Linked DNA regions of Homo sapiens. The protein of the gene in region 1 interacts with the protein of each later gene in a biochemical or structural test. Each region holds a gene or a part of one and is shown on either strand. Other genes may lie near its edges.

Region 1 (7,348 bases):
CACAGGCTGAGTACAGCTTGCATGGAGATGAAAAGAGCGGGCACATTGAAGGTCTCGAAGAAAACTTCGGCAGCTCGTTCCCGGTTTTTTCGTGGGTTTAAAGGCGCCTCAGTCAGGAGCACAGGATGCTGGTGAAAGGAGCCCGGGAGACAATGAGGCCAAGGCCAGATTTCCATCTTCATTAGTCTTAGGGGAGAAGACCCTGCCTTGCTGGTTTGAGAGCCCGGGGACTTCAGTCAGCCTCACTCCAAAAAAAGGCAAGCTGTGCCTGTCAACTATCCCTGCCCAAGTAGTTTTCTCAACTTTTCAAGTTAATGCCCACTTTAAAATTTCATTCTGTCCTCAGCTGTGCCCCCCAACTCCCCTCCTTGTCCTCCAAGATTGTTATACAGGCCCCTGTGTCTACTGTGTATCTCCAACTGTCAAGAAGATTTTGTGAAACTCTAAATTCCTGCCGCAGACCAGTTCTAGTCTGTGACCTGTTAGGAACCAGGCTGCACAGCAGGAGGTGAATGGCAGGTAAGCGAGCATTATTGTCTGAGCTCCACCTCCCATCAGATCATCCAAGGCACTAGATTCTCATAGGAGTGTGAACCCTACTGTGAACTGCGCATGTGAGGGATCTAGGTTGGGCACTCCTTATGAGAATTGAATGCCTGATGATCAGAGGTGGAACAGCTTCATCCTGAAACTATCTGGCCACCCCAAACCCCCACCCCCATGGAAAAACTGTCTTCCAAGAAACTAGTCCCTGGTGCCAGAAAGGTTGGGGACCACTGCTTTAAAAAAACTGTCTGAAAACAGCCGGGCGTGGTGGCTCACACCTGTAATCCCAGCACCTTGGGAGGCTGAGGCGTGCGGATCATCTGAGGTCGGGAGTTCGAGACCAGCCTGACCAACATGGAGAAACCCCGTCTCTACTAAAAATACAAAATTAGCCGGGCTTGGTGGTGGTGCATGCCTGTAATCCCAGCTACTCAGGAAGGCTCAGGCAGGAGAATCGCTTGAACCTGGGAGGCAGAGGTTGCGGTGAGCCGAGATTGCGCCATTGCACTCTAGCCTAGGCCACAAGAGCGAAACTCCATCTCAAAAAAGCAAACAAAAAAAACCCAAAACTGAAAACATCCCACCTGCACCTGGAAATTGATACACCTAGTCTGCACCTCTCTGCATTTTCTTTCTTTCTTTTTTTTTTTTTGAGACAAGGTCTCACTCTGTCACCAGGCTGCGAGTTCAGTGGTGCGATCTTGGCTTACTGCAACCTCGATGCCCCCAGGCTCAAGCAGTCCTCCCACCTCATCATTTCAAGTAGCTGGGACTACAGGCACGCACCACTGTACCCGGCTATTTTTTTTTTTTTCATATTTTTAGTAGAGGTGGTGTTTCGCCATGCTGCCCAACTTGGTCTCAAACTCCTGAGCTCAAGAGATCCACCCAAAGTGCTGGGATTACAGGCATGACCCACAGTGACCAGCCTCCCTTTACATTTTTGAATGGAGAGTTACTTCCTTACAAGTTAATAAGCACAGGCTGCACAAGGTGGCTCACGCCTGTAATCCCAGCACTTTGAGAGGTGGAGGCGGATAGATTGCCTGAACCCAGGAGTTCGAGACCAGCCTGGGCAACATGGCAAAACCTTGTCTCTACAAAAAATACAAAATTTGCCAGGTGCCATGGCTCATGCTGTAATCCCAGCTACTTGGGAAGCTGAGGCAGGAGAATCATTTGAATCCGGGAGGCAGAGGTTGCAGTGAGCCTAGATCACGCCATTGCACTCCAGCCTGGCCAACAAGAGCAAAACCCCACCACACACACACACACAAAATTAGCCGGGCATGGTGGGGGGTGGGGCTGAGATGGGAGGATTACTTGAGCCCAGGAGGTCGAGGCTGCAGTGAGCTATTGCACTCCAGTCTGGGTGAAAGAAGTTAATGAGCACAGGCTTTGAATTCTAAAAGACATAGGTTTGAATTCCATCTCTACCCTTTGTTCACTTGGTGACCTTGGAAATACCACTTGGCTTTTCTTTTTTTTTTTTTTTTTTGGGACGGAGTCTCACTCTGTCACCCAGGCTGGAGCACAGTGGCGCAATCTCGGCTCACTGCAAGCTCCGCCTCCCGGGTTCACGCCATTCTCCTGCCTCAGCCTCCGGAGTAGCTGGGACTACAGGCGCCCGCCACCACGCCCGGAGAATTTTTTGTATTTTTAGTGGAGACAGGGTTTCACCGTGTTAGCCAGGATGGTCTCGATCTCCTGACCTCGTGATCCACCCGCCTCGGCCTCCCAAAGTGCTGGGATTACAGGTGTGAGCCACCGCGCCCGGCCACGACTTGGCTTTTCTGAACTTGTTCCCTTGTTTGTAAAATGAGATAATACTACCTATATCTCATAGGAATGGTGTTAAGATTAAATCTGAATATGCCTGAAAATCAAATGGCTCCAGCACTCTTGGCAGTGATCATCGTCCTCCTCATCATCTCTAGGGTAGGAGTTTGACACAGCTTTGCATACCCTACAGGAGTGCCCTACACACAGGATCCTCACCTCCTCTGAGAAAGTCTGCAGCTGGTCCTTAGAATAGACATATTGCCAAATGCGTTCCATGTCGTTCCAATCCTTGACGATGCCATGCTCCATGGGATAGCGGATTGAAAGCAGCCCTCGGTGCTCCTGGGAAAAGAGAACAGGACTTACGACTGCAGTCAGGCTCCACCCAGGACCCTGTTCTCCCAAGACTAAGCAGTGCAAGCTGAATCCCTTGCAAAGAAGCCTCAGCTTCCTGAGCTTCCACCCTGCTGTCCTTGCCCAGGGCTAAGGGTGGGCACTCATTCTCCAAGGCTAAATACTGTTTGCTGCAAACTGCCCTCATTCCCGAGGAGCCGGCAAAGCAGGGGCTTCTGCATTTCCATGGCCCCTCAGGTGCCTCTAGGGCAAGTGGCAGGAGGCATCTTCCTCATTGCCTGGTTCCAGGACACAATCTCCTGGCTCCCACCTCTGGGCCTCAGCACTTGAAGCCAAGGATGGCAACAGCGATTCTGCTATCTGCTTACAAGAGGCTGCATGAGGGCTCTGACAAAGCTGTGTGAATTAACTCATCCCTAGGGTACCCCAGCCAGGATCTCCCCACTGAATATTTTTTGTGAAAAAAATAATAAACACAGTAAATTTGATCACTGACAAGGCAGTGACAGGATGCAGAAGACAACAGCCCTGTTTCCTAGACTGGTCTCAGTGTGTCCCAAAGTGAGGTCCCAGGTATTTTCTTCTCCAAGACCACAGGCTGTTCCTGGGAAAAATAAACCACCTAAGCCTAGGATGAGAGAATCAAAAAGGAGATTTTCAGAGAAAGTTGCCCCTTTTACTTATGGGTATGTCCAAATGTTGGGACATGTTCCATGTGGTGAATAATGAAGGTCCTCTGCTGGCTTAAGGCTTGTTCTGTAGGCCTGGGAATTACCTCAGCTTTGGGGCCAATGAAGATGTCGCCTTCAAGGGCTCCTGCCATGACACGAACGTGCTTGGGTCGGCCCACACTAGAAAAGACAGTGAGGAGGACCATCATTTTTCATTTCATGACAGAACACAGGAAGGATGTATAGATGTACATACACACTCAAATTCTACTGAGATTATCTTCAAGGAGTGAAGTCACAGTTGATTTTGATTTTCTTCTTTATACTTTTCTGTATTTTCCACAATTTCTAAAATGAACATGTATTATTTATATATTATTTCATATTTTATATTTATTATAAATTATGAAAACAAATTTTTAGAGTATTTAATACCTCTAGTTCTTCTCTTTCTGCAGTGTATGAACAGACCAAGAAAGATGAGGAAATGAGAATTTCTAAAGGAGTGATTAACTCAAAACATTTTAGTGTCCTTAGTCCCCTTCCCAGGACCTCTAAGTAAAACTGATGCTGGGCTGGGCTCGATGGCTCACACCTATAATCCCAGCACTTTGGGAGGCTGAGGCAGGTGGATCATTTGAGGTCAAGAGTTTGAGACCAGCCTGGCCAACATGGTGAAACCCCATCTCTACTAAAAATACAAACATTAGCTGGGCGTGATGGCACATGCCTATAATCCCAGCTACTTGGGAGGCTGAGGCACGAGAATCGCTTGAACCTGCAAGGCAGGAGTTGCAGTGAGCCGAGATTGCGCCACTGCACTCCAGCCTGGGCTACAGAATGAGACTCCATCTCAGAAAACAAAAAAAACTGTGATGCTATAGATCGGACAGATAGCCTCTTCCTTTCCTCCCCCTTTAAGCCCTTCCTGTAAGCCTCTGTGCTCTTCTCCTGCCTGCAGTCTCTCTGTCTTAGGAGGAAAGTTCTGAGAAACTCCTCATTAAGATGGTAGAAGGGCTGTAATCCCAGCACTTTGGGAGGCCGAGGCAGGCAGACCATGAGGTCAGGAGATCAAGACCATCCTGGCTAATACGGTGAAATCCCATCTCTACTAAAAATACAAAAAAATTAGCCAGGCACGGTGGCAGGCGCCTGTAGTCCCAGCTACTCGGGAGGCTGAGGCAGAATGGTGTGAACCCGGGATGCAGAGCTTGCAGTAAGCCAAGATCACACCACTGCACTCCAGCCTGGGCAACACAGCGAGACTCCGTCTCAAAAAAAAAAAAAAAAAAAAAAAGATGGTAGATGGGTTAAATGTTAATCCCCAGCCTGGGTGATAGGAGAATTTTAAAAGGAGGGCTCCACCAAGAGGCAATCCTCCAAAGCAATAAGTTACCAATGATAAAATTTTTTAGCATCAGATAAAATTGGATTTTTAAAAAGAGGCCTCTTATCTGTGCCTCTCAAATTGTACCATGTAGACAACTGTTTTCCTTTGTTGACTCCAAACTCGGCTCCTGTCCCTTATAGGGCTGGGCCTGTAACAAAGCTGATGAGCCTCCAAAACGTCTAAGCTACAGAATGACTTACTAGTTTGGAAAGCAGTATTTGGGGATCTGATCACCAGCAAAACCAGCTTTAATCACACCGGATCCCTGAGGAAAGAGGAGAGAGAATGAGGAGTCAGAACTATCACAAATACAAAAGGAAAAATACATTATATGGTACCATTTTTATTTAAGAAAAGAAAGCGGCCGGGCGCAGTGGCTCACACTTGTAATCCCAACACTTTGGGAGGCAGAGGCAGGCGGATCACTTGAGGTCAGGAGTTTGAGACCAGCCTAGCCACCATGGTGAAAGCCTGTCTCTAGTAAAAATGCAACAATTAGCTGGGCATGTTGGCAGGCACCTGTAGTTCCAGCTACTTGGGAGGCTGAGGTGGGAGAATCACTTGAATCTGGGAGGCAGAGGTTGCAGTGAGCCAAGATTGTGCCACTGCACTCCAGCCTGGGTGACAGACTCTGTCTCACAGGAAAAAAAAAACAAAACTAATATTTGTATATAATATATACATTTATTTGAACCTAGAAAAAGGTAAATGCACACCAAAAGAAGGGAAGTGGAAATAGGATGGTGAGGAGGATTCTCACTGTATACACAACCGTATGTGTGATTTTTCTGTAGTCTCTGACTTTTCTACATTGAACATGTTTTGCTTTGGGAATTAAAAATACTAGTAATAAAGGGAAGAAAAAGACAGAAAACCTGGGGAAAGAAGAAAGTACCTAGAAGCATCAAAGCAGCCAAGTTCAGGAACATAAGGTAGGAAAAGCACATGACTCCTTGTTACGCCACCCTGGGGTGCTTTTAACCTACTTTCCCAGCTCAGGCCTGAACTCTCCCAGCTTCCAGGGCCTCTGTGACAGACACCGCCATGAGCACTGTCATGCTTGAAATGGACTCCCATGGAACACGTGCTGTCTGGTTCTTATTGCAAGGGCAGAGCACGATGCTTTGGGAGATTTTTGTTGTTGTTTTCTTTTTAACTATGCTTTCCTTTTACTCCTTGGTCTCCTGATGGTAAAGAGAAGCAAAGACTAAAGCCTACTCTGAGAATAGAAGAGAACCACAGTCCTGCTGCTCCAACACTTGGTATGTCGAGTGAGGTGTCCAGAAAAGAATCTGAGTTCTCCCAGCATCTCAGGTACCACCCAGGGCCCAATCAATGTAAACAGTGACTCTGGACACAGAGACCAACCCTGTGCAGGACAGATGTCAAGGCTTAGTATTGCTTGTAGATACACCCTGTCCTCTTCCTTTTTTTTGAGATGGAGTCTCGCTCTGTCGCCCAGGCTGGAGTGCAGTGGTGCAATCTGGGCTCACTGCAAGCTCTGCCTCCCAGGTTCATGCCATTCTCCTGCCTCAGCCTCCTGAGTAGCTGGGACTACAGGTGCCCACCAGCATGCCTGGCTAATTTTTTTTTTTTTTTTTTAGTAGAGACAGGGTTTCACCGTGTTAGCCAGGATGATCTCGATCTCCTGACCTCGTGATCCGCCCGCCTTGGCCTCCCAAAGTGCTGGGATTATAGGCGTGAGCCCACCGTGCCCGGCCTTTTTTTTTTTTTTTTTTTGAGACAGAATCTCGGTCTGTCACCCAGGCTGGAGTGTGGTGGCACAATCTCAGCTCACTGCAACCTCCACCTCCTGGGTTCAAGCGATTCTCCTGCCTCAGCCTCCTGAATAGCTGGGATTACAGGCGCGCACCACCATGCCTGGCTAATTTTTGTATTTTTAGTGGAGATGAGGGTTCACCGTGTTGGTCAGGCTGGTCTCGAACTCCTGACCTTGTGATCCACCTGCCTCGGCCTCCCAAAGTGCTGGGATTACAGGCATGAACCACCGCGCCTGGCCTCTTCTTCCTTCTTAACTCTTCTACCACCACACCTGATACCCTCACCTTTCTAACCCAACATGGTTTGCAGCTGCACCCGTAGCTGGGGCAAGCCTTTTCCTGCTGCCTGTTGACCACTCTCCTGGGGTGGAGTGTGGTATTTACTGACCTCATTCTACAAGCACTGAACACACCTGGAGACTCTAAGTAGCCAAGGTTATCTGCACCAAAGGCTTCCCAGCAACATGCCTGCTTCCCTCCTTGACTCTCTTATTCCTGCTCTTCTGCAGGAAGAGGGGGAGTGAGACTGGCCATCTGGTGCTTGCCTTTGGCAAGACAGAGGTTGGTGGAGGAAGCAAGTGGTTGAAGGAAGCCAGGTGTGGTGGCTCACGCCTGTAATCCCAGCACTGTGGGAGGCCGAAGCGGGGCAGATCACATGAGGCCAGGGAGTTCAAGGCCAGCCTGGCCAACATGGCAAAACACTGTCTTTACTACAAATACAAAAATTAGCCAGGTGTGCTACACGTCTGTAATCCCAGCTACTCAGGGAGGCTGAGGCAGGAGAATCACTTGAACCCAGGAGGTGGAGGTTGCAGTGAGCCAAG
Region 2 (7,415 bases), on another chromosome or scaffold:
ATTACGGTTAGTTGTTTACGTGTCTCTCTGCCCGCTCCACATTTAACTCATTGAGGACAAGGGCTGTCTTACTCGTTTTGGTGTTTTTCCAGACTCAGTACAACAGATATTCAATAAAGAGATATTGAATGACTTGACTATAATTCATTTTTTTTGGCCATGGAATTAATGTCTTTCTTAGGACTAGAGAGAAGCTCAAGGAAAGAATGAACACGGGATTGGAGAAGACCTGCTCCTGGGCTGGAATACTTTCAGGGTTGAGCTCAACAGCTCAGGTCTGGGGATTCTCAAACTTCCATGAATCACAACAACCTGGAGGACTGTTAAATCACAGGTCACCCCCCCATCCCCCAGTTTACGATTCAGTACTTCTGGGGTGGTACCTGGGAATGTGCATTTCTAACCTGTTCCCGGGTGACACTGAAGCTAATGGTCTGGGGACCACACTTTGAGGGCCACCCTTGTCCAAAGATGAGAAGCAGCTGGAATTGGTTAGAGGAGCCATGAGTGTTGAGAAGACACAAAGTTTCAGGGGTGAGTGTGACCCAGGGTTAGCTTCTAGGTCTGCTCAGGCCCTACCCCACACTAAACTCAAATATCACTTCCCCTCAGGAGCTCAGGCGATGGGAGAGGAAGATGAAGATGGAGTAGGTACCACAGGTAATGAAAGAAACAGCACAGCGAACCGCAGATATGCGGGAGGAGAACGGCAGAGCTAGAGAAGTCACGGGAAGGCAGAGTTGAACAAATGACAGTGAGATGAATAATAGATTAGAAGAAATGGGGACTTTGGCAAAGTTCAAATCTTATTTGCTTCTAAGTATAAATGGGTGGACTGGCAGAGAGATAAAACGAAAAAGAAGTCACAAATCAGCTCAGGGCCTCCAGGAAGGCAAGAGAAAGATGGGCCCAGGGCAGAAGGAAGGAACAGCAAAACCCCGACCCACCTCTCAGACTGTGTTCCTGATCAATTCCCTCGGAGGAAGTTAGGAACTGGGCTGAAGAGGGGGACTGAAATTTTATTTTCTCTTCTAGAATCCTCCAGTTATGGCAGATTTATTCAAATATTCAGATTCTTCACTCCCTTGCTATCTCCCTTCCCCAACCCGGGGTCACATCAATTTCTCTAAGGGAAGAATGTAAACTCCATCCTATCTTCTCCTCGGCCAATCCTTTGCCTTTCTGAATAAGCCAAGAGGTTGCCCCACACCTCAAGCTAAGACACATATTTGGAACTCACTCTGCCCCTCTTCACCTTCAAGGAAAACTGGTTTGTTGCTACCTCTGCCCATACCTGAAACCCCCGGGCTCTCCAGCGTTGGAACTGTGGCTGCTCCGAGAGGGGGAGGGCAGACGACATGTAGCAGGTTAAGACCGGGGCAAACCTGCACCTCACACAAGCATGCAATGTCCTGGGGTCAATGGGGTAAAGTTCCAAGCGAGTGGAAGGTAAATCACGACTGTGGCACCGGAGCCGGAACACCCCCGCGAGCAGGCCTTGCTGGGTAGTTCCGTGCGGGGCGGACCGCACAGCCCTATCAGCTTCCTGGCCACAGAAACGCCGCACGCGGCCGCTTCCCCGCCGCCCGAAGCGTCTGCTTTCTCCCCGGGCCAGTTCCGGCCACCACAGCCAACCGCGTGCCCCTCTCCCACACACTGTGGGGGAACAGAAGGGAGCGCGTGGAGCCAGCTGCCAAAGAGGCGAGGAGGAGCCCACGCGGCTCCGGGGAGGAGGGAGCCCGGCTCCCGCAGTCCGCCGGGCAGAGGCGGCCGAGCGCGCCCCCAGCACCTGGCCCGGCGCCGGCCCGTCCGCCCCGCAGCCCCGGCGACGCGAGGGGCCGGCGCTGTCAGACCCGCTCCCAGCCTCGCCGCGAACGTGTCCGTCAGCCCTAACTGTTCCAGACTCTTCTCCCGGCTCCAGAGAGGCCCGAGTCCCCCCCCCTCGGCCTTGGCCCCCACCGCCCTCATCCCGGTACCTGTGTGGCTGGCACGGGACCCTCTCCGTCCCGTCCCCGCCTGCTCCCGCCCCGGCTCACCCCGGCCGCCGGGACCCGACCCCGACCCCGACCCCGACCCCGCCGACCGCACGCGGCCGGACAAAGCGCGCCGCCCCGCGGGCCGGGACAAAGCGGGCGGGGCGCCGGCACCTACCTCGGCGCGGAGCCGCGGCCGGGCGGGCGGGGGCGCGGCGGGCGGGGGCGCACCGGTAGTTGCCGCGCCTGCAGCCCGGCCGCGACGGGCGGTTGCAGGCAGCGGCCGGGCGCACGGCGGGCGGCGGGCGGGCGCTGTCACGGGGCGCAGGCGGCGCGGGGGGCGCGCGGGGCGGGCGGCGGCGGGGCGCGTGGCGGCGGCGCGCGGGCGCGAGCGGCGGGACTGCGGCGCCGCGGAAGGAGGACAATAGCCTCCCCCTGCCGCAGGCCGCCGGCTCCCGCGGGAGGCCCGGGACCATCTGGAGCCGGCGGCCCCGCGGGGCTCTGGGCGGGGCCCGAGTCGCCCCTTCCCCGCCCAGCGCCATGGCAACCGAGGCCCCTCTCGGTGCTCCCCGCCGCTCCCCGCCCGGGGTAGTTGACCTGCCTCGGGGCGAACGCGGCAGCAGCTCCGAGGCCGGCTGCCGACCCCCAGCCACCTTCCGTGCGGGGTCCCCCCAAAACCCCGCCTTCCCGTCCTCGCTGGTCCCTGGGTCCCCCACCACAGCTTACAGGTCTTGATCTCCCCGGTTCGGACACCTCACCTTTGTCCCTATTCTGCTTTTCCTCCAAAATCCGTATCCCCGAGACACGCGATCCTTCCTCTAATGACACTGCCGACGAGGTTTCCCGAGATCCAGCCTCCGTTCCCCTTTCCTCTCCGGGCACCTCCAGTCCGTCTCCGCTAAGCATTCCTCTCACCCGTCCCCTCGCTCTCGCGTCCTCCTTCAGGCAGCTGGGCCGGCTCTCCCTCCCAGAACATCTCCATGGCACAGTGAAGATTCGTCTTCTACAGATCAGATGCTCCAAACAGGCATCTCAGCGCTTCTCAGCTCCTCTCATTTATCAACCAGGAGAATTCCGGCCTAGTCACCGTCTTGAGGGGGGTGGGGGTGGGGGCAGACATTTCTAGGCCTGACACGGCTGGGTTTCTCCTTGGTTTGTTAGCGTCTGAGTGGTCTAAGGTCCAAGGTCCTTAACCAAGGTGAACTGCTGCCTGCTTAGGAGAGGAAGGAATTATGCCCAAATCATGACAAACTCACAGAGTGCCAGGTGGGTGCTAAAAGCGCATCATCTCATGTGACACTCCCACCCCCACTCCAGCTCTGAGAAGTAGGTGCTGTTCTTCCAGATTAGAGAACTCAGCTCAGAGATGAGCCAGTGGTAACAGGGTGAGCTTTGTACAGAGCCGTTAGGTTATGTACTGCCCCTGAAGATGAGGGCCCGTTTCTATCCAGGGAATGCCTGAAATGGTCAAGTAAGGGCACTCAAAGAATGGGCTTTGAGTGAATTATTGGATTTAAGGTTTTATAATAGATTTATGGGTAATTTAGGATTTTGCTCCTTTCTGAAAAGGTATGCATACTGAAACAAATATGTGCAATTGAAGTACTTTCCAGATATGGTTTTGACAACCCTAACTAGTGGTGTCATCTACCTCGCCTTGGTTTTCCTAGTCTATAAAATGGGTTGGGAGGAGGGTTGGGGAGTTCCATTGAAAGATTACTTTGAAGTTCTCTCCTAGCTCTGATATCTGTGCTTCTACCACGAAACTGGAACTGGCTCTCTGGTGTGTACCTCACAGTTAGCTGCATTTGAGGCTATTTATTATTATTATTATTTTGAGACGGAGTCGTGCTCTGTCACCCAGGCTGGAGTACAGTGGCTTGATCTCGGCTCACTGCAACCTCCTCTTCCCGGGTTCAAGCAATTTTCCTGCCTCAGCCTCCCGAGTAGCTGGGATTACAGGTGCATGCCACCATGCCCGACTAATTTTTGTATCTTTAGTAGAGTCAGAGTTTTGCCATGTTGGCCAGGCTGTTCTTGAACTCCTGACCTCAGGTGATCTGCCTGCCTCAGCCTCCCAAAGTGCTGGGATTACAGACGTGAGCTGCCGTGCCAGGCCTGAGGCTATTTATTATTTTTAATAGCCACTCTTTCAGGCAATGGCATTAAAGAAACAAGGGCATAAACTGCAACTCTTCCCAGAGGTAGGATTATGTGTTGGTTGGTTCGGGGGAAGGAGGCACCAACCTGTGCATGACGGTCATCAGGGACACTTGGTCAGGGACATTAAAGCTGATGGGATGAGAATCAGCTGCCCATGGCCAGGCGCAGTGGCTCACCCTTGTAATCCCAGCACTTTGGGAGGCCGAGGCAGGTGGATCGCGAGGTCAGGAGTTCAAGACCAGCCTGGCCAACATGGTGAAACCCCTTCTCTACTAAAAATACACAAATTAGCCAGGCGTGGTGGTGGGCATGAAATCCCAGCTACTCAGGAGGCTGAGGCAGGAGAATCGCTTGAACCCGGGAGGCAGAGGTTGCAGTGAGCTGAGATTGTGCCACTGCACTTCAGCCTGGGCAACAAGAACGAGACTCCATCTCCAAAAAAAAAAAAAAAAATTAGAGAATCAGCTGCCCTGCCAAAGGAACTGGAACCACCAAGCTGCTGCTGCTGTACTGGTTACGGGAACTAAGGGTCTCAATGACAGCCTATAATATCGTGACCCAATTAGAAGTCAAGGGTATTAAGTCTTATGATTAGCAAAATAATATCTTTTATAATTTCCTATTTTCAGCATTTCATAATCCTTCAAGAAGCCTTGTAAGATAAACATTCTCATTCTTATTCTATTGATGAACAGACTGATGTTCAGACACCTAAGTGAATGTACAAGTTCACAGAATTAGTTCATGGTAGAAACTCCAGGTCTTCTGAATCCTAATATGTTCTTTCCTCTCTGCTAGACAGGGAGTATAGCAGAATGGTTAAAAGCATTGATTTTGGAGTCAGACTCCTTGGGTTTAAAACATAGTTCTGCCACCCACTGACTATGTGACCTTGGGCAAGTTACCTCCCTAGGATTCAGTTTCCTTACATGTAAAATGGCACCATAATGTGGGGAACATCAAATGAATTATTGCAGGTAAATGAATTATATGCAGCACATAGTAAGCACTTAATCAGTATCAGCCGTTATGATTTTACCGTATTATTTCCCATACTGTTTCCCGATTTGGAGAGGAAGCACATTGAATAAAGAGAACACTGAGATCACCTATCTCAGCTCTGTGACTGGGTTGCTTTGGAAACTTGTTATTTTGCTCTGTAGTGAACCAGTACAGTCAATGATGAAGAAAATATCTGGTTCCTTCTTATTTGAGTTGCAAAAGCGAATGGAATGATATCCACCAAGTTTGTTGAGCTTCTCAGTGAATCCACATTTGCTGCTTACATTACCAAGATTCATGGAAAGGTTTTGGCTCTGCCCACCAAACATACATACATAGCCGAATTCTCAGTTCTTGTTTCAATACCAGGGAAGAGGTGTCCCTCTTTTCACCTAAGATGGATTCTTCTGGCTCCTATGCTAAGTCTCATCCCCTTCTGCAGCCTCACGGCCCTCACTGCTGTCTCTCAGCTGGTTCCTTCCCATCAGCATTTAAACATGCTCAAGCATTTGCCAGCTTAAAAAATAATCAAGAAGCCCCGACTTCCCTCCATGCATTCCCCTTGCTCTTTATGTTCACAGTCTTCCTGAGTCATTTGCACTCATTGGCTTCACTTCCTCGCCCCTGCTCAATCAAATATTTATGCAAAAACTATATGGCTAATTATATACCAGGCACTGTGCTGGGATCTGGGGATATAATGATGAGTAAAATGGATACTGTCTGTTTTCTCTTGGAAGAGCCTGTGGTGGGATTGACAGACATTAATAAAATAACCCATCAGATATATAACCACAAAGTATAATGAGTGTTATGAATGAAAAGTTCAGGATGTTAAGAGAGAACTGAACAGAGTCATAACCTCAGATCACCTGAGCTGAGATCTGAAATATGAGAAGCATTAACCAGACAGAGTGGGGAATAATAATAGCTGTTACTAACATTAACGTGGAACTGTATTTCTAATACTTTACACATAACATTTCATTTAATCCTTTATAACAACTCCAAGAGGTAAGTATTAACCCCATTTCACAGATGAGGAAATGGAGACATTGAGAGATTAAGTACCTTACTCAGGGTCATCAAACCAGGCAAGGGTAGAGCTGGGATTTTAACCCAATCTGACCCTTGAACCCATGTTCTTAGCCACAGAGCATATGGCTAACAGGCCTGATGTTGCAGGACACATGGTGTACATAGGAAATGGAGAAAAGAGGCCGGGTGCAGTGGCTCACGACTTTGTAATCCCAGCACTTTGGGAGGCCAAAGTAAGCGGATCACAAGGTCAGGAGATTGAGACCATCCTGGCTAACACAGTGAAACCCCTTTTCTACTAAAAATACAAAAAAATTAGCTGGGCGTGGTGGCATGCGCCTGTAATCCCAGCTACTCGGGAGGCTGAGGCAGGAGAATTGCTTGAACCCGGGAGGCAGAGGTTGCAGTGAGCTGAGATCATTCCACTACACTCCAGCCTGGGCAACAGAGCAAGACTCTGTCTCTCAAAAAAAAAAAAAAAAAAAAATGGAGAAAAGAGGCTGCGCGCGGTGGCTCACGCCTGTAATCCCAGCACTTTGGGAGGCTGAGGCAGGTGGATCACCTGAGGTCAGGAGTTCGAGACTAGCCTGGCCAACATGGTGAAACCTCATCTCTACTAAAAATACAAGAATTAGCCGGGCGTGGTGGCAAGTGCCTGTAATCCCAGCTACTCGGGAGGCTGAGGCAGGACAATCTCTTGAGCCCAGGAGACGGAGGCTACAGTGAGCTGAGATTGTGCCACTGCACTCCAGCCTGGGGGACAGAGTGAGACTCTTTTTCAAAAAACCAACCAACCAAAAAAAAAAAAAAAAACAATACAAAAGAAATGGAGAAAAGACCAGGGTGCAGGGAAAACAGAGGGGAAGAGGGAATGTGTAGAGAATTGCGACTGGGGAGATAGGCAAGGGCTAGATCATGCAGAGCTTTTTATGTCATTATTTAAAGAATTTTGATTTTCACCTTTAGAGCCCTGAGAGACTATTGAAAGGTTGAAATAAGGAAGTGATAGGATCAACTTTGTATTTTAAAAAGGTCACTGTAGCTGCTATGGGGGGAATAGGTTACTCCAGTTGCTATGGAGGGGTGCAAAGATGTGTGAGAAACCAGTTAGGAGGCTACCACTGTGGGTAGGGTGACAGAGAAGATGGTAGCTTGAACTCAGTTGCTGGCAGTGGAGATGGAGTGCACAGGTTGAAAGAATTAACCAGATGTGGTGATGGGATAGATACAGGGGTGGTG

Evidence for each region.
Region 2: the proteins of ACTR1A (region 1) and SPTBN2 form a complex in vitro, tested with the Homo sapiens proteins (2 studies listed by BioGRID).

The regions. Positions count from the first base shown.
Region 1 is NC_000010.11:102,485,606-102,492,953, forward strand, and holds part of ACTR1A (alpha-centractin), read right to left. Parts: intron 5,009-7,348; coding exon 4,944-5,008; intron 3,534-4,943; coding exon 3,458-3,533; intron 2,671-3,457; coding exon 2,545-2,670; intron 129-2,544; coding exon 4-128; intron 1-3. UniProt on the Homo sapiens protein: Part of the ACTR1A/ACTB filament around which the dynactin complex is built. The dynactin multiprotein complex activates the molecular motor dynein for ultra-processive transport along microtubules.
Region 2 is NC_000011.10:66,726,010-66,733,424, forward strand, and holds the start of SPTBN2 (spectrin beta chain, non-erythrocytic 2), read right to left. Parts: upstream 3,208-7,415; 5' UTR 2,732-3,207; intron 2,267-2,731; exon of another isoform or gene 2,152-2,266; intron 2,135-2,151; exon of another isoform or gene 1,977-2,134; intron 1,424-1,976; exon of another isoform or gene 1,295-1,423; intron 1,277-1,294; exon of another isoform or gene 1-1,276. UniProt on the Homo sapiens protein: Probably plays an important role in neuronal membrane skeleton.